Homo sapiens: one gene and its partners. The protein of the gene in region 1 purifies or fractionates together with the protein of each later gene. This does not show direct contact. Each region holds a gene or a part of one and is shown in the gene's direction. Other genes may lie near its edges.

The links.
Region 2: the proteins of MIX23 (region 1) and ALDH1L1 purify together in Homo sapiens (co-immunoprecipitation; one large-scale study listed by IntAct). This does not show direct contact.
Region 3: the proteins of MIX23 (region 1) and AFG3L2 purify together in Homo sapiens (affinity purification with mass spectrometry; one large-scale study listed by BioGRID and IntAct). This does not show direct contact.
Region 4: the proteins of MIX23 (region 1) and MTFMT purify together in Homo sapiens (affinity purification with mass spectrometry; one large-scale study listed by BioGRID and IntAct). This does not show direct contact.
Region 5: the proteins of MIX23 (region 1) and PAM16 purify together in Homo sapiens (affinity purification with mass spectrometry; one large-scale study listed by BioGRID and IntAct). This does not show direct contact.

Annotation. Positions count from the first base shown.
Region 1 is NC_000003.12:122,359,212-122,362,733, reverse strand, and holds the end of MIX23 (protein MIX23), read left to right. Parts: intron 1-2,814; coding exon 2,815-2,865; 3' UTR 2,866-3,143; downstream 3,144-3,522.
Region 2 is NC_000003.12:126,105,329-126,107,608, reverse strand, and holds part of ALDH1L1 (cytosolic 10-formyltetrahydrofolate dehydrogenase), read left to right. Parts: exon of another isoform or gene 1-362; coding exon 363-468; exon of another isoform or gene 469-1,683; coding exon 1,684-1,883; exon of another isoform or gene 1,884-2,076; intron 2,077-2,280. UniProt on the Homo sapiens protein: Cytosolic 10-formyltetrahydrofolate dehydrogenase that catalyzes the NADP(+)-dependent conversion of 10-formyltetrahydrofolate to tetrahydrofolate and carbon dioxide.
Region 3 is NC_000018.10:12,367,219-12,370,740, reverse strand, and holds part of AFG3L2 (mitochondrial inner membrane m-AAA protease component AFG3L2), read left to right. Parts: intron 1-3,358; coding exon 3,359-3,465; intron 3,466-3,522. UniProt on the Homo sapiens protein: Catalytic component of the m-AAA protease, a protease that plays a key role in proteostasis of inner mitochondrial membrane proteins, and which is essential for axonal and neuron development.
Region 4 is NC_000015.10:65,005,618-65,009,139, reverse strand, and holds part of MTFMT (methionyl-tRNA formyltransferase, mitochondrial), read left to right. Parts: intron 1-2,948; coding exon 2,949-3,027; intron 3,028-3,522. UniProt on the Homo sapiens protein: Methionyl-tRNA formyltransferase that formylates methionyl-tRNA in mitochondria and is crucial for translation initiation.
Region 5 is NC_000016.10:4,344,812-4,348,333, reverse strand, and holds part of PAM16 (mitochondrial import inner membrane translocase subunit TIM16), read left to right. Parts: intron 1-3,522. UniProt on the Homo sapiens protein: Regulates ATP-dependent protein translocation into the mitochondrial matrix. Inhibits DNAJC19 stimulation of HSPA9/Mortalin ATPase activity.

The DNA of each region.
Region 1 (3,522 bases):
GCGAGGTGGCTCACACCTGTAATCCCAACACTTTGGGAGGCCAAGGTGGGTGGGTCACCTGAAGTCAGGTGTCTACTAAAAATACAAAAATTAGCGTGGTGGCATGAGCCTGTAATCCCAGCTACTCGGGAGGCTGAGGCAGGAGAATCGCTCGAACCCAGGAGGCAGAGGTTGGAGTGAGCTGAGATCAAGCCATTGCACTCCAGCCTGGGCAACAGAATGAGACTCCATCTCCAAAAAAAAAAACCAAAACAAAACAAAACAAAATTAGCTTTATAAGCATATGATAGAACTGAATGAGCTGCCATCATAACAGCATTAGAGACATTCTCTATGTCTCCTAACACTAATTACAGGCATGGTTGCTATTTAGAGTTACTACTCAGAACCTTCAAGGAGGCTATTTGTTCAAATTAGCCTTTTTGAGCTCAGTTACTTTCCGTAAGTTTTCCTATCATTAGGTAACCTATACGGTTGCTTGTCTTCTAACTTACCTGATCATAAAACTTGTTATTATATGTAGTTTTACTGGTATCTGATAAGGCTTTTTATTGCTCATAGATTTACAAGCTCCTTATTATCATTGCATAGTTCTTGTTAGGAACTAGATTAGGGGACCAGATCCCAGAAACATATAGTCAAAATTCATGAAACTCTGACTTTAGTTTTCTGAAAAAGTATATCCATTTACCCCTCTCTAAAACTCTAAAAGATTTACGAAGGGCAAAAATCTATTAAATCTGAGAAAATGTACTGAAAATTCTGTTTTATCATTTGAATTTAACTACTGGAATGTTGTTAAACTATATGCTTATAAGAGAGGTTAGCTGAACCAAAACCAGAATGTACCGGCTTGCTGAGACATGAACACATTGCAAAATACAAATTGGCTTTCTTTGCTTTATCACATTTCTCTATCTTATCCTCTTTGCCAAGGTTTCCTATTCCTGCCCTTTCCACCAACATGATAAGGTGTCTGTCACTTGAGAGGATTTGGCAATATTTCCCATTTATATTCTCTGGAAAAATAATATTTACTCTTGGGATTGGATGGGGAAGGGGTACAATGAAACATCTGGCTTGAAAAAACAAGTGCAGAAGTTTATGATATATGTAAAATGTAGTGGGAAGAGTGAACTATTTTGAATTTAATATTAGTTTTAAAGAAAATATGTTCTATCCACTCCACAGAAGATGAGGCCCCTACTTGTTTTAAAAAGAAGAAAATGTAGCCATGGTGCTCTGGTGCAGTGGGCCAGCAGAAGTGGATAGGAAATCATTTGGGAAAAGGATTTGGAGAAGCTCAGCCAAGTTGTATATATCACCCCAACCAGTGTGTCAAGGCCACTAAACTGAAGCCTCCCTCTTGTCTGATTGGGAATTTCAGGGAAATGTCAGGGCTGGAAATGGGTGAGATGAATTGTAAGACAAAAGGGCTAGACAGAGTCTATATAATTTCTACATATTTTCTATTAATTGTGAGATGCATATGCGAAAGATTATGTGACATGTAGAATTTAATGAATATTAATAAAATGAATATTCATGTATCTACCACTCAGCTTAAGAAATTGAATAATAGGTCAGGCGCAGCACTTTACTGGCTCACGCCTGTAATCCCAGCACTTTGGGAGGCCGAGGTGAGTGGGTCTCTTGAGGTCAGGAGTTCGATACCAGCCTGACCAACAGGGTGAAACCCCGTCTCTACTAAAAATACAAAAAATTAGCTGGGCATGGTGGCGGGTGCCTGTAGTCCCAGCTACTCGGGAGGCTGAGGCGGGAGAATTGCTTGAACCCAGGAGGTGGAGGTTTCAGTGAGCCGAGATCACGCCATTGCACTCCAGCCTGGGCGACAAGAGCGAAACTCCGTCTCAAAAAAATAAATAAATAAAAAGAAATAGAGTAACAGTACCTCACAACCTCTGTGTTTAGATTTTTCTTTTATTTTTATAATAGTCAATGGCAGCCAACATAGGTAGTTTGTTTTTTTTTAACCTAAAAAGTGATTTGTTCTTTACATTAATGATGTATGGGGGTAAATTCTGAGAAAAAATTCTTTTCAATTTCAGAATTGTTATAATTGGACACTTAAAATTTTTGACATGATTTAAATTTTTTTAATATTAAAAATGTTTTAAAAATTTTAAAAATAGTAATATACAGTAAAAATTCTGCCTTCTGTCCCTCTCCTTCAGCTACCTCCTACTTTCCCTTCCCTCTGAAAGATGGTATATGCTTTCAGATACTCAAACCTTTTCTAATTTTATGTGTGTGTGTATTTTTCTACCTTTGTTACACAAGTGAAACTGTACTATTCACACTTTTTTTTCCCTTGATAATCTTGGAGATCTTTTTAAATCAGAACATAAATTATTTTTAACCTTGCATGTATTCCATTGAATAACCATACCAAATTTTTATTTAACACAGTTCCATGTGGACATTTAGTTATTGAGCATTCTTTATTTAACTTATTTTAGATATTTTTGTGTTGTTGTTTAAAAAATGTCCAGAATATGAAATTGAAATGTTTGCTAGTAACTAAATTACCTGGCTCTTGATGATTTTTTCCCGAAGTAACTTAAATTTTATTAAAATACTAGAATTGTCTTGTAAATGGATGTCAAGGCCTTCTGTGCATTTGGCACCTCATAAGTCAGTTTGAACTGCTGAGGAAACTCTTCTGTTTCCTAAATCTGTTGACTTAGGACAAAAATGGTAATAGCCTTTTGGAGCCTACTAAATTGAATTTAGTTCCAGGCCTGATTTACGCAGGATAACTCAATGACTTTTGTTTCTGTTTCAATATTTTAGGTGTTTAATGAACGCTGCCGAATTCACTTCAAGCCTCCAAAGAATGAATAAAGAGAGATTCTTTTTTTTTTTTTTTTTTTTTTTTTTTTAAGGACTGGGTCATCTCATAAGAGCTAAGCATGACAGATATCAACAGGGCGGGCTTTCTAGGATGATTTCTGAGCCAACAGTCCAAGACCTTTTGTTGATTTCAGCCCCACTTAGCCAAGACCTCAAGTATAAATAATTCTGATAATTATGGAGAAATCAACTGCTATTTTATACTGATTCTGTAAAAAAAAAAAAAAAAAATTTTTGTAACTATTAAAATAATTTTCTGACTCAGTGTACATATTTATTTGATTGTTTTCTATGTTGAGACAGTTCTCTTTTTATTTATTTATTGAATTTTTAGTTTCTATTTTTTTAATATCCTGTCAGGTTGCAAGACAGTTCTCATAAGATAATTTGCATGCACTTTCAATATCTGATTTGTAGTGTATTTTTTAATTTTTATAAATTTATTGGCATGGATGTGGACCTTTTTGGTTATTGATAAGTTTATTCCTTGATTTATCTTTGTGGGTTGATTATAAAAGGGCAGTATTATAAGCTGGACAATGCCCAAAGAAGTTTTCTTTTAGTACCTTAACTGATCTTATTTTCAGATATAAAAACTAATTTTTGGTGGAATTCTTTCCTGGACAGTATTTCCATGGTCATGGAAAA
Region 2 (2,280 bases), 3.7 Mb from region 1:
AGAATCTAGGTGGTTTTAGATTAGCTGTCACCAGAAAAGCTCAAGTCTTTGCTTCGGCCATGGGTTCTGGCACTAGGATTGGATGGACTTGGGATCAGGTCTCAGCTCTGTCACCTGCCAACCGGCGGCCCCATTTCCCTCAACAGCACTCCGTTAAAAGCACGGTGAGACCCACATCAAAGAACAAGCCAGGTGGGAGAGCCATCTGCAGCGTGGTGACACCCATCACACGGGTGCCGTGACCCGGTGCTTATGTCGGGTCATCCGCAGGTGGCTGGTGTGGCCCAGGCCCTGCTGACGGAGAGGCTGGACCATCGGGCACCGTGTCTCCCATGTGCAACGGGCTTTTATCTCTCTTGCAGGGTTCTTCTTTGAGCCAACTGTTTTCACAGACGTGGAAGACCACATGTTCATAGCCAAGGAGGAGTCCTTCGGGCCTGTCATGATCATCTCTCGGTTTGCTGATGGGTAGGGAATCCTGCTGATGTCTCAAGGGCCCTGACTCTCTCCCACGTGTTACTGGGGTCTTCATGTGGGCTTTGGGAGGTAGTCTACGGGCAGTCAGGAGGAGAACTCAGGCAGGGCGCAAGCCGTGGACACCCCGCTTGTGCCGCCTGCTGAGTCTCCACACCCCTGAGAAGAGAGCCCAGTGACCTGGGGCTTTGAGTCCCCCCTGTGAGCAAAGGCAGCTCCCTTCCCTGTCCTTGTCACTTGTCACATGCTCCAGCATGTTTCTCACAGCCCGCTGGGCTCTGTTCTAAGGTCTGTTACCATGCATTAAACCACCCCCCACACTGAGTGGCTTGGAATAATCAGAGATTTATTTTAGTCACGGTCTAGGTTCAATGAGGCAAACCCATCTCTGCTCCATGCAGTGTCTGGCCTCAGCTGGGGTGACAGAGTGGCTATCCTGATGCTGCTGGGGGTCTTGCGGGAGGCTTCCTCCGCGTGGCAGCCTCGGGGTTGCCGAGGCACCTGGTTCCCTTCGGAGGCCAGGTGGAAGCCAAAAGGCTCTTTATAATCTAGCTCTTTAGAATCCCAGAGCATCCCTTCCACCACGGCCTGTTGATGAAGCAAGTCACCCAGACCAGGCTGGGCTGGAAGGGAAAAACTGTACTCCACTCACAGTGGGGCCACTGAGGCCCATGCTGTCACTTCTCAGGCCTGCCCCTTGTCTCCGTAGCACCTTGGAGCAAATTGCAAAATCGTGCCTCGTCCTCACATTTTACTATCCAACTACCAAAAAAACCCCAGAAATTATCATCGTATGTCAGTGGTATTAGAATAAGAGACTTCACTGCCACCTAGCCAATAAATATGGTTGTAGTAAGTCTCCAAATCGCTGATGTCTGGTGAATGCCCAACCTGCGGCGGGCACATGTGGGTCCTTCTGCATGTGAGGACCCAGCGGCCCCTCTCTGGGCCCCTGCTCCCAGTCTGTGGAATAAAGGGCTCACCCGATGATCCAGGAGCCCCTGTGGTGGCCACCTGCCCATGGGCCTCTGCCCTTCCTCCTCGCTCGCAGCCCAACCCAACCCAATCTTGCCCCCGGCGCTGCAGCCCGGCACATTTTCTCCTCGGAAGGTCTTATGCAGCTGGGGTGTGGAGTGGGCCGGGGTGTGGAGTGGGCCAGGCTCTCCTCTGCACCTCCCTCAGGGAGTTCTTCCTGGACTTTCTCTCCAGGGACTTGGATGCCGTGCTGTCTCGGGCCAATGCCACGGAATTTGGCCTGGCTTCTGGTGTCTTCACCAGGGACATCAACAAGGCCCTGTATGTCAGTGACAAGCTCCAGGCAGGCACTGTGTTTGTCAACACGTACAACAAGACCGACGTGGCCGCTCCCTTCGGAGGATTCAAACAGTCTGGATTTGGCAAAGATCTAGGTAACCTACTCCTGCCTGTGGGGTTGCTTTCATTTATTCATTCAACAAACATCTGTTCAAAACCACTTAGGGCCAGGTCCTATCTCAGATGCAGGGACGTAGCCTTGAACATGATGGCTGTCAGGGTTCGCTTCTTACTGGGAGGGAACTTGTGACAAGTCCGTGAGCAAGATGCTTGCAGAGGGGGGTCGTGCTGGGAAGAAGGCAAGAAGAGGGGCCTGGAGGAGACACTCCAGCCAGGAGGCACTGGGGGCCTCTCTGGTGTGGTGGCACCTGTGCTACCCAGACCTGCATAGCAGGGAGGAGTTGGCCATGAAGACCCAGGGGCCCGTGTTTCTGGCTGAGGGTTCAGCAGGTCCTTGGGGGAACCAGCTTTGGTCGTGGAGCTGCAGAGAGG
Region 3 (3,522 bases), on another chromosome or scaffold:
ACGCCTGTAATCCCAGCCTTTTGGGAGGCCTAGGCGGGTGGATCACTTGAGCCCAGGAGGTTGAGACCAGCCTGGGCAATGTGGTGAAACTCTGTCCCTACTAAAAATACAAAAAATTAGTTAGACATGGTGGTGCACACCTGTAGTCCCAGCTACCTGGGAGGCTGAGGTGGGAGAATCACCTGAGCCCAGCAGGGAGCTGTGATTGTGCCACTGCACTCCAGCCTGGGCAACAGAGAGACCCTGTCTCAAAAAAAAAAGAAAAAAAAAAAAAAAAGAAAGTTATAGTAAGTCAGTTGTGAAGCTGTAGGTTGCAAGTACATATAAAATTCTAGAGACCTTATGTTACATTTCACCTTAATTTTCTGTTGATATTTTTCTGTCATTTTGCAAATTGAAGTAATTTAAGGCTACCTTAGAGGTATTGTCTGGTCAAACTAAGCATATTTGGTAGATATCTGGCACATAATTTAAAACATTGAGAAAAATCGTAGAAATCTAATACATGCAATTTATTTGATACATATTGTGTTTAGGGCAGTGTTTTAAAAATTGCTCCTCAGAGCATTACCTCACCTTAGGGATTCGGAGAGACTTTTTTAGAGCACGGTGGCTGGGGGACTGAGTGGGCCTCCTGTGCCCATTTTGACTGACTTCCTTGCTTTTTTTTTTTTTTTTTTTTTTTTGAGACAGAGTCTAGCTCTGTCGTCCAGGCTGGAGTGCAGTGGCATGATCTTGGCTCACTGCAAGCTCCGCCTCTTGGGTTCGCACCATTCTCCTGCCTCAGCCTCCTGAGTAGCTGGGACTAAAGGCGCACGCCTGGCTAATTTTTTTTTTTTTGTATTTTTAGTAGAGACGGGGTTTCGCTGTGTTAGCCAGGATGGTCTCCATCTCCTGACCTTGTGATCCGCCTGCCTCGGCCTCCCAAAGTGCTGGGATTACAGGCGTGAGCCACCATGCCCGGCCCATCCTTGCTTTTTTAGGGAAATGTAAAGAAAACTGTAATTCAGTTTCTTTTTTTTTTTTTTTGAGGAGGGGTCTCTGTCGCCCAGGCTGGAGTGCAGTGGCACGATCTCACTGCAACCTCTGCCTCTTGGGTTCAGGTGATTCTCCTGCCTCAGCCTCCACAGTAGCTGGGATTATAGGCATGCGCCACCATGCCTAGCTAATTTTTAAGAGATGAGGTTTCACCATGTTGGCCAAGCTGGTCTTGAACTCCTGACCTCATGTGATCCACCCGCCTCTGCCTCCCAAAGTGCTAGGATTACAGGCGTGACCACTGCACCTGGCCTCGAGGAGTCCACGTTTTTAAATGTACTTGTCATCTAGTTGGACAGACAAATATATGCCCAAAGAATGCAAAGGAGTAAGAGCCAGGGGACATGGGGAGGGAGAAGCACTGGTGTGGGCTGGTGACAGCCCCGGGGCTCTAGATTGGAGCAGTACCTACAGTTCTCCCAGTGCATGCTAGGTGGTCTTTGAGTCTTGGTGTGGGGGCCGAGTAATGATAACCCATGCAAGCTTTTGGGTTGCTTTTGTGTGGACATTCCTTTCTCCCTGAGTGGTTTGGAGTGTTGCACAGCTTTAGTGGTGTGCTTACTGCGTGTTTTTTAGTCCTGGGCCTCATTCTGGGGGCTGAGGCTTGTGCATATCATACCTGTCTCAGACTCCACTCGAGACAGAGGTGCAGAAGCCCCTCGTATGCAGCATAGCGGAGTGAATGTGTCATGAAGCCACATGTTACATAGCCACTGAGGATGACCGGGTGCCTGTAGCCTCCCATCCTGCTACACTAGAGGGGTTGCTTCATGGTCACTGAAGACATTAGAAGTGTATTCGGTCCGGGTGCGGTGGCTCAACGCCTGTAATCCCAGCACTTTGGGAGGCCGAAACGGGTGCATCAGCTGAGGTCAGGAGTTGAAGACCAGCCTGGCCAACATGATGAAACCCTATCTCTACTAAAAATACAAAAATTAGCCGGGCATGGTGGCGTGCTCCTGTAATCCCAACTACTTGGGAGGCTGAGGCATGAGAATCGCTTGAACCTGGAAGGCAGAGGTTGCAGTGAGCTGAGATCACGCCATTGTACTCCAGCCTGGGAGGCAGAGGTTGCAGTGAGCTGAGATCACGCCATTGTACTCCACTCTGGGAGACAGAGTGAAACTCCGTCTAAAACAACAACAAGGACTGATTTACAGTTTTCCTTACATACATTTCCCTACAAAGCAAAGATGCCAGCTGAATACCAACTGTGGGTGTGTTTTTTTAGCCATTTGTCAAAACCATGGGCTTTCCTGCACAAGAAAGTGTTAACAATGTATACTTTGTGGGAGTGGGAAAGGGAGTACTTACTTTTGTTTTGTTTTGTTGTTGCTGTTGTTTTTGAGATAAGGTCTTCCTGTTGCCCAGGCTGGAGTGCAGTGGTACAATCACAGCTCACTACAGGCTCAAACTCTAGGACTCAAGCGATTCTCCTGCCTCAGCCTCCTGTGTAGCTGGGACCACAGGTGCACACTACGATGCCTGGCTAATTTTTATTTTATTTTTTTATTTTTTATTTTTTATTTTTTTTTGAGACGGAGTTTCACGCTTGTTGCCCAGGCTGGAGTGCAATGGCGTGATCTTGGCTCACCACAACTTCCGCCTCCCAGGTTGAAGCGATTCTCCTGCCTCAGCCTCCCTAGTAGCTGGGATTACAGGCATGCGCCACCATGCCCAGCTAATTTTGTATTTTTAGTAGAGACAGGGTTTCTCCATGTTGAACAGGCTGGTCTCAAACTCCCGACCTCAGGTGATCGCCCACCTTGGCCTCCCAAAGTGCTGGGATTACAGGCGTGAACCACCGCGCCCGGCCAGAGGCAGGGTCTTGCTTTGTTGCTCAGTCTGGTCTTGAACTCCTGGGCTCAAGGGATTCTCCTGCTTTGGCCCCCCGAAATTCTGGTATTACAGGCATGAGCCACCGTGCGTGGCCAGAACACACTTTAAACTTTGAGTGGGGACTGAGGAATTTGCATCCCAACTCTGTGACTTATTCACTGTCCCCTAACACTGCCACCCATCCAACAAGTTACTTAAGCTATACTTTCTCCCTCTGTGAAGGGTATAACAGTCCTATAATTTCTTGGGTTATTGGGTTATTGTGCATATTTCATGAGATGATGCAAGTATAGCCCTTGGGAGCCTCCCTGATTGGTAAGCTTTGTATTTGTATTCTTTCTCATAGTGCTTCACTTAGTAACTGATCAGTTGCCACAGTGTATTCTGCAATGAGTCTTTTATTAAACCGTATACATGAAGACATTGCTGAGAGAGCTAAAACCTTGCCGTGCTTCTGTGTGTGCTCTTTGTTTATGAACAGAATCAAAGCCAGCTGCTACCACACGCTCTTCTGGAGGAGGAGGTGGTGGCGGTGGAAAACGAGGTGGCAAGAAAGATGATTCTCACTGGTGGTCCAGGTTTCAGAAGGTTTGATGCTATACATTGTGTGAATTTTGAGGTTATGATGGTGGCCCAGAGAAGGTT
Region 4 (3,522 bases), on another chromosome or scaffold:
AAGGCCCTTGTCTTTGAGCTTCTGCTTTTTTTACCTCTAAAGTGGGATTAATGACCATGTACACAACTGGCAAGATCAAAGGAAATGAACTAGGTGAATGTAAATTCATGCAAACATACTATTTTGGCAGTAATGATGGCAGACACCAAAATGATTATATTCTTACCATCCCTTTCCTTTCTACAATGCTCTGATGATAAGGTGAGCTTTACCTCCCGAAGAACAAGACTATATTCTGAGTATGTACCTAGCATGTTTATTACTCTCAGTAAATAGAAATCTTTTTTAGTCAGTAAGCATGTTTCAAAAATATTTTGAGTTATTTAAAAGAAAAAAATTGCACATATGAAAATCGTTTCAGAACTTTTATTGAAGCGGGCAAAAGAAAAGTGAGCTAGCAAGTTATAGAAGAGGCTATGACATAGATACAGTTATGAACTTGTTCTTCAAATTCATTTACTTATTTGATTTAATGTTCAAATTATTACAACAACCTAACTCTTCTGAAAGTTAAATACCCTCTTTAAGGGGTGTCATAAAAAGAGCACTGCACTGAGAATCAGAAAACAGAAGCCAGTCCTGGCTTTGCTACTAACTAGCTGGGTCCAACCTTGGGAAAATAGCTGCATTTCTCTGAGCCTCACTCTCTTCATGTATGAAATAGAGGATTGAACTACAGTCTGGAAATAAATGCATTCAATTCAGAAATTTTAGAGAACTTATTTCCTGGTGTGTGTTAAATTTTATTAACATTTAAATCAGGCTGTAGGATCTCAGGTATGTTGGAAATGTGTTACATGATAAAGGTGGTATTTCATACTGGAGGGAAGGGTAAGATGGATTATCTAGTAAATAGTATTGGGATAACTGGCCAACCATTGGTGGGGGAAGCCCTCAAATCCTATCTTTTAAAATCATAGTAAGTGCTATATTATAACAATGCATATGTAGTTAACAATACTGTATGGTATACTTACAATTTGTTAATTGAGCACATTTTTCTTATGTGTTTTTTACCATAATAAAAAAATCAAAATATAGATGGATCAAGGATTTAAATATAAAAAGTAAAATCACAAGGACTATAAAAAAGCACAACTGAATAATTTGACAATATTTAATAATCTTAAAGTGTGGGGTAGGCCTTTTTAAGTATGATACGAACCACCAAAGTAATGAGAGAAAAGACTTAGAAATATAATTATGAAAATAAAAAACTTATGCATGGAAAAAATGGCTGTCCCCAAGATTAAAAGTCAACAAACTGAGGAAAATATTCACAACACATGTAAGAGTTAAAAGGCTAATTTCCTAAATATAGAAAATATTTTTGCAAATTAATGAGATAACCATCCCAGTTTTAAAAAATATAACCAAAGGGCATAAATAGGCAGGTTACAGATAAATAAATTAAAAGTGCACATAAATATATGGACAGCTTCTCAGCTTCGCTAATAATAAACAGCAAGAGATTATCATATTTTTTTCTCACTTATCCAGGCAGTTTAGCAATAAAATGTTGATGCTGTTTAACCCACGCATTCCACTTTAAAAACAAAAAACCCCAAAACTATTATCCAGAAATGTGTAAGCCCTCAAAGATATATCGACAAGGTTATTACCCTAGTTTATAGTGTTATAAATAGCAATAAATTGAAAATAACAAATATCTATCATAAAGGTAGTTGCATAAATTACATATTCATAAAATGGGTTACTGTGCAGCAGATAGAGTGAAATTGATAAGTATGTACTGATGAAACATCAATGCTTTATGGTCACATAACAAAAGTCCTTGTAAAACAGTATTGATGCAGGACTTTTTGCTCCTTAACTCAGCTAAAATCTGGGTTCTTGTCTCACAACCAGGAAAAATTAGGCACGTGGACACATTGAAAGGTGAGGAGAGTGGAATTTATTAAAAGAAAGCTCTCAGCAAAAAAAGAGGGGGTCCTGCCAACAGGCTCCCACCTCACAGATTGAATACCAGGCCACCACACAGGAGCTGAAGAGGCCAGGCTCTTCCCCTGCATAAGGCAGAAATTCCTGGTGGCTCCACCCCCATTCTTCCAGTGCTCATGCGGGCCCTTAGTCTGAGCCACGCCACCTTGATTTATTTCCTTTACTGTGCATGTGTTAAGGGACAGAACTTTTCACCATGGACATGTTGAGTCAAGCCCACTGTGCATAATGACCTGGGTGGCATTTGGCTGTCTCCTGTCTCTATCACTGTGTTCTAGATTTTTATAATAATATTTGTAGAAAAAAATACAGGGAAATGCACATCAAACTTAACAGTCGTTACCTATAGGGATGGGAATAAATACAGAATATCACTTTCTAAAATTTTTTAACATAATGTAATGCTTGCATTTTTTATAAGGATAATAAATTTTTAATTGGAAATATTAGTATATTAGATATAAACATTGATTTTAAAGTAACATTTAAGATCTTATAAATCGGCCGGGCGCGGTGGCTCACGCCTGTAATCCCAGCACTTTGGGAGGCTAAGGCGGGCGGATCATGAGGTCAGGAGATAGAGACCATCGTGGCTAACATGGTGAAACCCCGTCTCTACTTAAAATACAAAAAATTAGCCGGGCATGGTTGCAGGCGCCTGTAGTCCCAGCTACTCGGGAGGCTGAAGCAGGAGAATGGCGTGAACCCGGGAGGCGGAGCTTGCAGTGAGCCAAGATCGCGCCACTGCACTCCAGCCTGGTGACACAACGAGACTCCGTCTCAAAAAAAAAAAAAAAAAGATCTTATAAATCCTGGAAACACTGATGTAGAGAGTCATGTTTACGGTCTGTTCCATCAAACTTAGTGACTGAGTTCCCAATTCCTCTAATTGAAAGAAAAGTCCAGATTAACACAAAATAGTAGTTGAAAAGGGTTTGGGAGTTGAGTGTATTCCTTTATCATACCTTCTTTAATTTTACTTGCAGATTCCGTTGCAGACGCTCTGGATGGCGAATACCATTAAACTTCTGGATTTGGTAGAAGTTAACAGTTCAGTCCTTGCTGGTACTAACTTTTGAATAGCTAACATGGAAGCTGTTTTCACTGTAGTGTATCTGGAAATACGTCTGTTTTATCATATGTCACAATTACTAAAAATAACTTTTAGTTTGTTTCAGTTCAGTAATTATAATACTTTACATTCACTTATTGTCTTATTCTTTGCAACACTCATTCTCATATATTTTCTCATTTAATCATTACAAGAACAGGCCAGGCGCGGTGGCTCACGCCTGTAATTCCAGCACTTTGGGAGGCCAAGGTGGGTGGATCAGCTGAGGTCAGGAGTTCGAGACTAGCCTGACTGACATGGTGAAGCCCCGTCTCTACTAAATACAAAAATTTAGCTGGGCATGGTGGCACATGCCTGTAATCCCAGCTACTTGGGAGGCTGAGGCAGGAGAGTCACTTGAACCTGGGAGGCAGAGGTTTCAGTGAGCCAAGATTGCGCCGCTGCACTCCAGCCTGGGCAATGAGTGAAACTCCATTTCAAAAAAAAAA
Region 5 (3,522 bases), on another chromosome or scaffold:
GAACCCTCCCGCAGAAGGGTTAGGAGGCGCTTGGAAACCCTGCCTGGGGACATGGAGTTCATGAGACAGCAGATTGGGCAAAGCTGCAACAGCCATATTCATTCAGATGCACCAGGGGCACTTACTGCGCCAGCCACTGGCCAGGTCCCTGATGTTGTGGCACGTGCTACAGTTGTGGTCCTGACCTTTCTCCTGTCTAGTTGTGATGCCCGTATCTATTCTCAGGGGCCCTGGGTGACCAGAGTGTCCTTGAGAGTGAGTCTCAGGCTGTCTGCTTATCTACCCAGAGCCTGGGGCTTGGCCTCAAAGGCGCATTGCACGCGAATCTCAAAGACACAAGTCAGTGTAAGCCCCATTGCTGAGTGCCTCCCACAGCACTGTCTGTGGTCCCAGCTGCTGGGATCTGGTCCTGCCTTGGGCCAGGTTGCTGCCCAACAACGAAGTGCACATGCTGCCCCCACGCATGCCAGGATTGGATCCTGTGCTTCTGACTGCTGCTCTCTGACAGCCGCGTGGCCTGAAGTTGGATGCCAAGTCAGCTGGGTCCTCTCACCTGGGACCCTCAGGCCCAAGTGTCAGTCGGTGGACTATGGGATGTTTGGAGCCTCTGGGAGGGGCCTCAGGCAGTGGTTGTTTTGGTCACCCATGGTAGCCACAGCTGGCAGAGCTCTGCTCCCTGTGAATGAGCTCTGAACTCAGCCTGACCCATGGCAGAAGCTCAGGGGATGTTGGGGTACTGGATAGGTGGATGAGGGGCTTGCCTGCACCGCCTAGTTCTGGACCTGCCGCTGTTTGTCCATGTGGTGTTAATGGGCATTGCCTCCTGAGGGCCTTACTGTCCTCTTGTGAGGAGGGTGTTATTCTCTCCATCTTGCAGTTAAGAAAACTGAGGTAGGCTGGGCACAGTAGCTCACACCTGTAATCCTAGCACTTTGGGAAGCCGAGGAGGGCAGTTCATGCGAACCTAGGAGTTCAAGACCAGCCTGGGCAACATGGCGAAACCCCATCTCTCCAGAAAAGTACATTTAGCCAAATGTGGTGGCGTGTGCTCAGCCTCCAGAAGTTATGAAATTTCCACCTACTTGTGAAATCCTAACCCACTTGTGTTTGTTCATTCCCCTAATGGCCCATATCACATCCCGCCTGTTAAGGAAAGAGCAGGTCCTCGGAGGCTGAGTACAAGTAGCTCCAGCTACTCGGGAGGCTTAAGCAGGAGAATCTCTTGAGGCTGGGAGGCTGAGGCTGCAAGTGAGCCATGATTGCACCACTGCACTCCAGCCTGGACGACAGAGTTAGACTCTGCTTCCAAAAAAAAGGCCAGGTGTGGTGTCTCATGCCTGTAATCCCAGCACTTTGGGAGGCCGAGGCGGGTGGATCACCTGAGGTCAGGAGTTTGAGACCAGCCTGACCAACATGGTGAAACCTCGTCTCTATTAAAAATACAAAATTAGCTAGGCTTGGTTGTGTTCACCTGTAATCCCAGTTACTTGGGAGGGTGAGGCAGGAGGATCGTTTGAACTGGTGAGGTGGAGGTTGCAATGAGCCGAGATTGAACCACTGCACTCTAGCCTGGGTGACAGAGCGAGAGTCAGTCTCAAAAAAATAAATAAAAAATAAAAGACCCAAACCAAAACAAAAAAAGATTCAGAGAGGTTGAGTAATTTGTCCAGGGTCACACAGCTATTGAGAAAGAAAGCTAGGGTTCTGGTCCCAGGTCAACGTGGTTCTCGTTCTGCTTCCTTGCTGCTTCCCAGCTCCCTGAGGGAATGTAGTATGGTGTTTTGCAGCCTTCACCCCTGAGGAAGCAAAGGGCCTGTATCAAATGAGCTGCTATTTTGAAAGAAGCTTTGTTACTTCATAGTGCCTGGTCATTGTCAGATTTTGTGAAACAGTAGTAATGAATGAAAACCAATGTTTATTGAGCACCTGCTGTACCATTAGGCTGTGTGCCAGGCATTTGACAGGCATTATCTCAGCTTTATTGGTGGCCACATTTTACAGGTAAGCAAACTGGGTTGCTCAAAGGAGTTGAGAACGTGTCTATGTCAGATAGCTGGGATTTTTGCACACAGGTGATCCCAAAGCCTGCAGGTGTAACCATTACACTACACTGCGTCTTCTCAGAGATGCCTCCTATAGGAACCTTGCTGGCCTCAATGGGCCGTCCAGTCTGCTGAAACTTTGCAGGCCAGCCCCCCTCTGCCCTGCAGCTCTAGGCAGCTGAAGCCACAGGCCACCACGCCGCTTTGGTTTGAAGTGTGCAGGGGATGGTCGGGGAAGCTCCCCAGTTATGACCTCAGCTCTTACCGTTCATTATTTTGCAACAGTCATTGGCCTTGGCAGAAAAGTAAACAAGTGATTGCAAGGCTGTACGATGGCAGCAGAGGGACCGAAGGCTGTTGGTGTGAGGGGTAGTCTGAGACCTGAGCCGTGTTTCAAGCCGAGGGGACCCTCTGACTTTCACCTCTGTCCTTCAGACAGCACCAGCATCCCATCCCTGAGCCTCCTGTTCCACTCGGGAGGGGCTTTAGGAAGGAGGCGAAGTCAGGTGAGACCGCAGGTGTCATCAGGTGCATCCCTGACCCTCCCTCATCTGCAGTACAGCCACAGCCCTGCCCCTCGCTGTGATCACAGGAGGGTCTTCTCTGGGCTCTTTCTGCTGTGAAATCCAGAAGTTATGAAGTTTCCACCTACTTTTGAAATCTTAACCCACTTGTTTGTTCATTCCCCTAATGGCCCATAATGACATCCCACCTGTTAAGGAAAGAGCAGGTCCTCGGAGGCTGAACAAGGCCAGCTCTGGAGTCGAATCCACTGGAATCTGGAGCAAGCCCCTCTGGCCTCGGGGTTGGGTTCTTGATACTTGTCGGCTTGCCCAGGTGCCCTACCTTCAGACCCCGGGACCCTGCGTAGTGACTGCTGTGACAGATAGCACCAGCCTTGGGTTTCCGATCTGCCTCCGAGGCACCTGCTGTTACGTCCTCGGGCCAGTCAGCAGTCCCCCACCCCTGAGTTGTCAGAATTAAACGGCACAATGAATTGAACGTGTTTGGCACCGTGCCTGGTGTGTGGACTCAGTTGATACTTGTTGACTGAAGGCAAATCTACAGAAAAGCACTAGGAAGAAAGGGAAAGTCACTCGGCTGTGCCACATGAGCTTTCAACCTATGCCGAGCTGCCTCCAGCCCGCGCCACCCCCCTGCGTCTACGGCTTTGCAGTCACAAGATCCTTTGTATGTGCTGTCTATATATAATCGCTTTGTTTCACAAAGATCTGTGCATCTTTCCATGTCATCCGCCAGATTCCCAGTCTTTCCCAGGCCAGCCTAGGCTATTGGCTGCTCGCAGGAACTCCCTTCTGCCTTCTCTCCTGCCAGTTTTGGCTCAACCCAGTCCCTCTGCCTAGAAAGCCCTAGTATTTCCATCATGATTCTTCCTACCCTGCAAAGCCCAGCCCAGGAGGAACCCCCTCCTCTCACGGAACCCCCTCCTCTCACAGAACCCCCTCCTCTCACACAATCC